2 separate regions of the Homo sapiens genome follow, and region 2 is reported to be linked to region 1. Evidence: microRNA targets listed by miRTarBase, many of them from high-throughput screens and not tested one by one. Region 1 holds a microRNA gene; the other region holds the end of a gene's coding sequence.
What was found. Region 1 holds the annotated microRNA hsa-miR-1277-5p (AAAUAUAUAUAUAUAUGUACGUAU, at 2,601-2,624, shown strand). A microRNA usually pairs through its seed, bases 2 to 8, with sites in the 3' UTR of a target mRNA and lowers its output. Matches are read on the target gene's strand: a 7mer-m8 pairs with bases 2 to 8, a 7mer-A1 pairs with bases 2 to 7 and ends in A, and an 8mer does both.

Region 2: the mRNA of TTYH3 is a reported target of hsa-miR-1277-5p. The part of its 3' UTR that is shown has no 7-base or 8-base seed match.

What each region holds. Positions count from the first base shown.
Region 1 is chrX:118,383,801-118,387,865 of GRCh38, forward strand. MIR1277 (microRNA 1277) reads left to right here and starts at 2,594; the gene lies at 2,594-2,671. It overlaps WDR44 (WD repeat domain 44), which reads left to right. Exons shown (of 20, transcript NM_019045.5): 3 at 3,540-3,614.
Region 2 is chr7:2,660,999-2,665,055 of GRCh38, reverse strand. It overlaps TTYH3 (tweety family member 3), which reads right to left. Exons shown (of 14, transcript NM_025250.3): 14 at 254-3,388. The coding sequence ends at 3,317. Among named protein-coding and RNA genes, the nearest start is that of AMZ1, 25 kb to the left of the region's middle. RefSeq lists enhancers at 1-181, 3,845-3,944, 4,025-4,057.

The DNA.
Region 1 (4,065 bases):
AAGTATTCTCTCTCCACCTTGTCAAGGTTATCTTATCAATTGGTCTTGGTTAGATTTTTATTTCTTTTTTTTAATTTCTTTTTTTTTTTTTTTTTTTGAGACAGGGTCTTGCTTTCTTCCCCAGGCTGGAATGCAGTGGCATTATCATAGCTCACTGCAGCCTCAGGCTCCTAGGCTCAAGTAGTCCTCCCACAACAACCTCCAAAGTAGCTGGGACTGCAGGCACATACCACCATGCTTGGCTAATTATTATTTTTTTTAGAGGCGAGGTCTCACTGTGTTGCCCAGGCTGGTCTCAAACTCCGGGTTTCAGCCTGTGCCCGGCCTTCTTTCATATAAAACCAGGATCCAATTAAAGCCTATGTAAACTTAAGATGTATGTATTAACTGAAGAAAAAACAGAGCATGCATCATTCAACATTCATTCAGCAAATGATTATTTAGTGCTGGACACTGTTTTAGGTACTGAACAAACTGTAGATAGAACAAACAAGGTCCATCTCTCATGGAGCTTACATTCTAGTGGGACAGGGAAGAGACAAAAAATAAGCAAGTAAATAAGGTCATTTCGAACGATAAGTGCAATGAAGGAAAATAGGATAATGTTTTCCCAGCACCATTTATTGAGTAGGGAAGCCTTTCCCCATTCTTTGTTTTCATCAGGTTTGTCGAAGATCAGATAGTTGTAGGTGTGCGGTCTTATTTCTGTATTCTCTATTCTGTTCTATTGGTCTGTGTGTCTCTTTTTGTACCAGTACCATGCTGTTTGGTAACTGTAGCACTGTAGCATAGTTTGAAGTCGGGTAGCATGATGCCTCCAGCTTTGTTCTTTTTGCTTAGGATTTGCCTTGGCTATTCAGGCTCTTTTTTGGTTCCCTATGAATTTTAAAATAAAATTTCCTAGTTCTGTGAAGAATCTCAGTGGTAGTTTAATAGTAATGGCATTAAGTCTATACATTGCCTTGGGCAGTGTGGCCATTTTAACGATATTGATTCTTCCTATCCATGAGCTTGGAATGTTTTTCCATTTGTTTGTGTCATCTCTGGTTTCTTTGAGCAGTGGTTTGTAGTTCTCCTTTCACCTCCCTAGTTAGCTGTATTCATAGGTATTTTCTTTTCGTGGCAATTGCAAATGATGGGAGTTTATTCCTGATTTGGCTCTCTGCTTGGCTGTTATTAGTGTATAATAATGCTAGTGATTTTTGCACATTTATTTTGTATCCTGAGACTTTGTTGAAGTTGTTTATCAGCTTAAGAATCTTTTGGGCTGAGACTATGGGTTATCTAGATATAAGATCATGTTGTCTGCAAACAGGGATAGTTTGACATCCTCTCCTCAATCCCATTACTGGGTATATACCCAAAGGAATATAAATCATTCTATTATAAAGACACATGCACACACATGTTCATTGCAGCACTATTCACAATAGCAAAGACATGAAATCAACCTAAATGCCCATCAATGATAGACTGGATAAAGAAAATGTAGTACATATACACCATGGAATACTATGCAGCCATAAAAAAGAACGAGATCATGTCCTTTGCAGGGCCATGGATGGAGCTGGAGGCCATTATCCTTAGCAAATCAATGCAGGAACAGAAAACCAAATACTGCATGTTCTCACTTATAGGTGGGAGCTAAATGATGTGGACACATGAACCCATAGAGGGGAACAACACATGTTGAGGCCTATCAGAGGGTGAAGGGTGGGAGGAGGGAGAGGATCAGGAAAAATGACTAATGTGTACTAGGCTTAATACCTGGGTGATGAAATAATCTGTGCAACAAAACCCCATGACACAAGTTTACCTGTGTAACAAATCTGCACATGTACCCCTGAACTTAAAGTTAAAAAAAAAAAGAAAAATAGGATAATGTGATAGAAAGTTAAGGAGTCAGCTAAGGCTATTTTGAGATGGTCAGGGAAGTATTTTCTGATAAAATAGCACTTGAGCTATGACCCTAATGGCAAGGAATCATCCTATTGGCCAGAATGTAATTGTGGGGGAGTGATATGAGAGGGAGATGAGGAGTGTAGAAGATATCAAAAATGTAGGCAGAGGCTATGTCATGTTTAGGCCTTCATGGGCCTTGGTACTGTTTGGATTTTATCTAATACTTAAGAGTCCATGAAACATTTTTTTTTTTCTAGAAGAATCTGTGTAAGATTGGTAGTATTCTCCAAATTCTGGGGGAGGAATTCAGTGCTCGAAGATATTGCAAGTCCTACAGAAATTTCACTGGCACGTTAAATCTTTAACATTTTAATAATCTCTGGAGTAATTTCATTATTGAGCCTATTGTGATCATATCCTGATACTTGTATAAGTGCCACCTAAATAATTAATGTGCCTTGAGTCCTTTATCTGTCTAAAATGGTTATAATGACCTTCCTCTAACAAACTCTGTGATGTGCACAAAGAATTATGGTTTTTTTTCCTCAGTATCAAGAGTAGCATTCAAATTGCTGTGCTTCTATAAATAGACAACTTAAGATTGAGAAGAGTATTGTATTGAGATTTGCAAATATATGATTGTCTTATTTTACCCTAATTTTTTCCAGCAGAAATGCAGTATCCATTTCTAACCTCCCAAATATATATATATATGTACGTATGTGTATATAAATGTATACGTAGATATATATGTATTTTTGGTGGGTTTAATTTTTTTCATCTTTTTTCATAGTTTTTTTAGGGGCTTCATTTAACTTCTGGTTAAGTCTTGATTTCTTTTATCTAAAGCATGTAGAATTTTAAGAAAACTATTCCCTGAATGTGGTTTTCTGTGTTATAAACTTTTGTATTTGTGCATATTTATGGAGCAATGCTTTGGGGAAAATAACAATTTTTATTCAGCCCCTTGCTTAAATCCTTAATCCTTTTTAGCTATAAAAGTACGTAGAAGTTCTTATCGTCCATTACAGTTTTTTAATGTTAAAAAGTTGAGCAAGTTTTCACATTTAAAGGTAAATATCCTATTGCAGAATAATAGAATATTGCTGATGGGTAACTTTCTTATGCAAATTACATTGTCCCATTTGGCATAAAATTTCTGAGCATCTATCAGTATTCAGAAATCTAAGCCCTTTAGGCTGGGCACAGTGGCTCACACCTATAATCCCAGCACTTTGGGAGGCTGAGGTGGGTAGATCACTTGAGGTCAGGAGTTCAAGACCAGCCTGGCCAACAAGGTGAAACTCTGTCTGTACTAAAATTACAAAAATTAGCCAGGTGTGGTGGCACGCGCCTATAATCCCAGCTACTCGGGAGGCTGAGGCAGGAGAATCACTTGAACCCGGGAAGCAGAGGTTGCAGTGAGCCAGGATTGTGCCACTGCACTCCAGCCTGGGTGACAGAGTAAAACTCTGTCTCAAAAAAAAAAAAAAAAAAAAAAGAAGAAGAAGAAATCAAAGCCCTTTAAGGGCCTTTGATTTATTAATGCTACATTTTCTCATTTGTACCCCTTTAAAGCATATTTTTAAAGAAAAGATGTCATCATTTGGTCTCTATTTCTTTTCTTTTTCAAACAGGAAACAGAGAACACTGCATACAAAGTTGGAAATGAGTCCCCTGTACAAGAATTGAAACAAGATGTGTCTAAAAAGGTTGGAAAGATACAATGTCAATATTAGTTTATAGCAGACATCATATTTATATGGTATATTTCAAACAGCTTTTATATTCTTTTAGTATAGCGCTCTGTACATGGCTGATGTTCAGCAAATGTTTCATGAATCTGTCACATTTGTGGTTGAAGACATTTCAGTCTTTTTAGAAGTCCTTTTCATATTCTAATTGGTAATTTATCCTTGAGACAATATTTTGTAAAATGCTTTTATTTTTTGTTCTTGTATTTTTATCAGAATAAGCCCTAACTCTTCTTGAGGTTACTACCAGGAGTTATGGGTATTGAAAAGCTCAGTGCAGCAACATTCTGATGTCTTTAGGAATCAGAAGTTATAAGAAGTCCTTACTCTGATAGTACCTGATACCTTTTAAAAAATTGATGCTATGAAGCTTCAAAGGTTGGTTTACTAGAAGAGACTGAGCACAAGA
Region 2 (4,057 bases), not on the chromosome of region 1:
CACCCCATCCCTGGAGAGCCTGTCCCCGGCGCCCCGCCCAGTCACTCCGAGGCCCCGCCCACCCCTGAAGACCCGCCCACAACCCCGAGAGGCCCCGCCCGCAACCACAAGAGGCCCCGCCCAGCCGACCCCTCGGAGCTGACCTGGTCGGCCCCACCCTCAGTGTCCCCCTGTTCCCCCAATGCCCCTGCCTGGAGCCGTGGACTCCCTACCAGCGCCCAGCCAGGAGCCAAAGCAGCTCAGGAAGAGAGGCTTGCTTTTTAAAATTTATTTTAAAACATGAAACCCAAGCTGAATAGAAACCACAGAAATTACATTGACGAGATTTTTAGTATTTGCCAAGAAAAAAAGCCCCCAAAGAAATAAAAATCAGCCCCCAAACCCAGTTCTAAAAAAACAAAAAAACACAGCGACAGTACATACAGCCATGGCCCTACAGAGGCTGGAGGAGGGGGAAATGCAAAATGGTTCAGGCCTCAGTTCCTGGATGTTAAATCACACTGGGGTGGGGGAGGTCAGATGCCCAGGCCGGGGGGGTAAACCAGGAGGCTGAGTCTTAAGGAGATTATATATATATATATTATATATAACAAATATGAAGTGGTTCAGTACACAACCATTATGGTTAAACACAAAACAAAGATCCCACAGGAGAGGCCCTGGTCCCCCGCCTGCCCCCTTGTCTGGGGTTCTGGGGTCCAGGGGGCTGCCTCACCACCCCTCTCAGGGCTGGGGCAGAGCTGGCCCCAGGGCAGGAGCAAATGTTGCTTGGAACTCGAATTGCATAGTGAGATGGGTGGGTGGGCAATGGGCCAGGGGCTGCTCCCAACCAGGCCCATTCACTACCAACCTTGCCATGACATGTGGGGGGCCCTGGGGTAGTGGATGCCTGCTGGGGAGCACTCTCAGTGAGGTAAGCCCCTGGGCTCCTCCCTCTTGTCCCCAGGGCCACCCTGTCCTCCCAACGAGGCTGTGGGCCTGGGGGCTGCAAGACCCCCTGTGCAGGGTGAGAGTGGGGGCTGGCCATGGCAGCAGGCACCAGCCAGATGCCCCAGTAGGTGTGGCGAGGTCATGGGATGGAGTAGTTAGGAACACGGCACCGAAAACTCAGAACAAAAATACAACCAATGGCAGGCGCTCCCCTCCACCTACTGAGGTGGGGTTTGAACCCCTTTTGATTTTCCCCGTTTCCTTTCTTCAACCTTGGTGAGTAGAAAGTCACAGACGGGCACACACGCACACCACGGTCAGGAGTCCCGAGACAGCACGAGGCTGGAAGCCCTGGCCTCACCGCCTCTCACGCTATGTCCATTCACCTGGCAGGCAGCCTCACGGCCATGGACAGCATTTGTGCTTCTGAGCGGTCGCAGGGCGTTTGGCGGGCACCCACGCCAGGGTGCCAGGGCCTCTCTCCTGGCCCTAGGCCTGGAGAACTCCCCTGGCGGGTCAAGCCCAGAGGAAAGACTGGGCAGGTTGGCTGTGGCGGGGCCTCCGAGGGGGGCTCAGAATGTCAGCCAGGCGGGGCCTGAAGCAGAGGCCCCTCCACTGAGGTTTGGTCATGCCTGGGGAGCTCAGACGCCCCGGCTTGGGGCCCCAGGCCCATGGACTCCCCTCCCCACTCTGCCCTCCCATATTCCCCCTTTTTGGTCCCAGACACCAGCACAAAGAAAGGAGGGGTTCACAGAGGAAGGCCAGGGCAGAGCCTGGCCCCAGGGAGGGGATGAGGACATTTCCGGTCCAGGTAGCTGCCGGCTGCTCTGGGAGGAAGAGCCATGCGTCTGTAAACTGCTGGGGCTGGCGGCCCGCCCCACTGCAGGGCCCAGCCTTGACCCCTGCACGTGGCCATCCAGCTGCCCTCTGGCTGCCCCTGGCCTTGGCACAGGCATCGAGCCTCGAGGGCTGGGCTGGCTGGGCCAGGGCCGGGACCGGGAGGGGTAGCACGTCCGATCCTGATGTGGGGTGGCTCTGCCCTCCACGGCGGGAAGCACAGCAAACATCGTACACTAAAGCCAAAAGCACCATTGGGGAGCCTCGCTCCCACTTCATGGGGAGGAGACCGAGGCCACAGGGACCTCAGTCCAAAGCCCGCGGGAGGTTCATTCCCGAGGACAGTCCTCCTGGGGCAGCACCTGCCTGGGGAGGGGTGTCCAGGCCCTTGGGCTGCCTGTCGGTCTGTGGCACCCCCTGGAGCACCCCATGAAGAAACGCTACTGCAGCCTTGACTCCCAGACAGCTGCTCCGGCCTCGGCTCCAGCCCGGACTTGGGCTCACACTGCCGGCTCTGGGCCAGCTAGGGGCACCCGTGGAGTTTGGGGGTGAGGTTAGTGGTTAGTCCCAAGGGGGGACAGCAGGGGCTGAGGGATGTTCACAGCCGGCTCGGGTCCAGCCCCTCAGGCCGGGCTCCTGGGATGCTGTACCTGTCATGGATGGAAATGGAACCAAGAAGGGAGGGAAGGGGGGTGCCAGCGGTCCCCCTCAGCCCGCAGCCCCAGCCTGCCCTAGAGATGACAAATGTGGTTAGTGCAAAGAACGAACCAGACACAGCTGCCCAGTCTCTGGGTGGGGGAAGGGGGTTTGGCACCAAGAAGGCGGCCAGCACTGGGTGGCGGGTGAGCGGCCCGGGCTCCACGTGGCCCCTGCTGTCCACGGAGGGCTGGGGCCTCCAGCAGGGCAGGTGCTGAGGGAGAGAGTGAAGCTGGGGCAACGGAGAGAGGCCCTGCTGGAGGGGGCCTCTGGCAGCCGGCAGGAGGGGTGAGCCTGTGGGTGGGCGGGCTGCACAGGCGAGGAGGGCACTGCAGAGAGATGGGCACGTGGAGGGACCACGGGGTGACCTCAGGGCAGAGATGAGCAGGTGGCACGTGTCCCTGTCCCTCAGTGGCCAGCAGGCGCCAGCACAGAGCGGCCCCAGCCGTGCCTGTGAACTAAGAAGGGGTCCACAGAAGTGCCGGGCGGGAGGAAGGAGAGCTGTGGAGGGAAGGGCCGGGCGGCAACAACACAGGTTGGGTGCGGCCAGGGCTTGTAGGTGCGGCGACCATCTGCAGAGGGAGCGTGCCGGGATAGTGGGTGGCGTGCAGGGCTGGGGCATCGGCTGGCAGCAGCGTTCAGGTGTGACCCGAGTTGGCGGTACGGGCCCAGAGCCCCTGCGTCTCCACTGTGCCCCTGCGGGGAGGGGACAGGAGGGCAAGCGGCCTGCAGACGCGTCTGGGGCAGGCCTGGCACGGCGTGCGAGGGTCCGGTGGGTGGCCCAGGTGGAAGCGGCAGTGCTGGCACGGGGAGGGGAAGTTGGCACGTGGGGTGGGTGGCTGCCGGGCGCGGTCTAGTGGCTGCCGCTGGAGTCAGGGCGAGGCTGGCTCGTGGCGAGGTATTTGGCTCTCATGCTGGAGGTGTACTGGAGGGAGACAAGGGGGAGGCATCAGCAGGGCCCCTGCATGGCGCACGCAGCCAGGGGCGCCTTCCGCGTGGTCCTCACTTGGCTGAGCCAACAGCCCTGGGGGCAGAATGGGACAGTACAGGGTGCCCTGACAGAGCCTATAGGGAGGGGCTAAGGAGGGGCCGCTGGCTGGGGGCCCCTGCGCTCTAGGTCTGGCTGAGGCTGAGGGAGGGGCAGCCCCCGAACTCTCCAGGCTCAGGACAGGGGATGTCTCCTCTGAGGAGGGGCGTACACACAGCCTCCCATGCCCACACCAGCGGCATTTGGGCATTGGGCCAGGCAGAGTTCTGCCACCCCCAGGAGCCACAGCTCCAAGGCCCTACCTGCACCTTACGCACCCAGGACCTGAAGGACACAAACCAGCCACCCTCCAGGGCCGGGCCAAGGCCTCCTCCGGGCTCAGGGCCGGGTCCACCTACAGCCAGGCCACAGCATGCAGGAGTACGGAGGCCCCAGCCTGAGGACATCCCCCGGGCTACTCTGCCCCTTCACGCCATGGAAGGAGGGCCCCTTAAGCCACACAGGAGGCTGGAGCAATGCAGCCCCCCCTCCCGTGGGGGACCCAACTGTGGGCTCCTGGGGGTCTTGGACTTAGGAACAGAGGCGGCTGCAGGGGGCGCTGTCCTG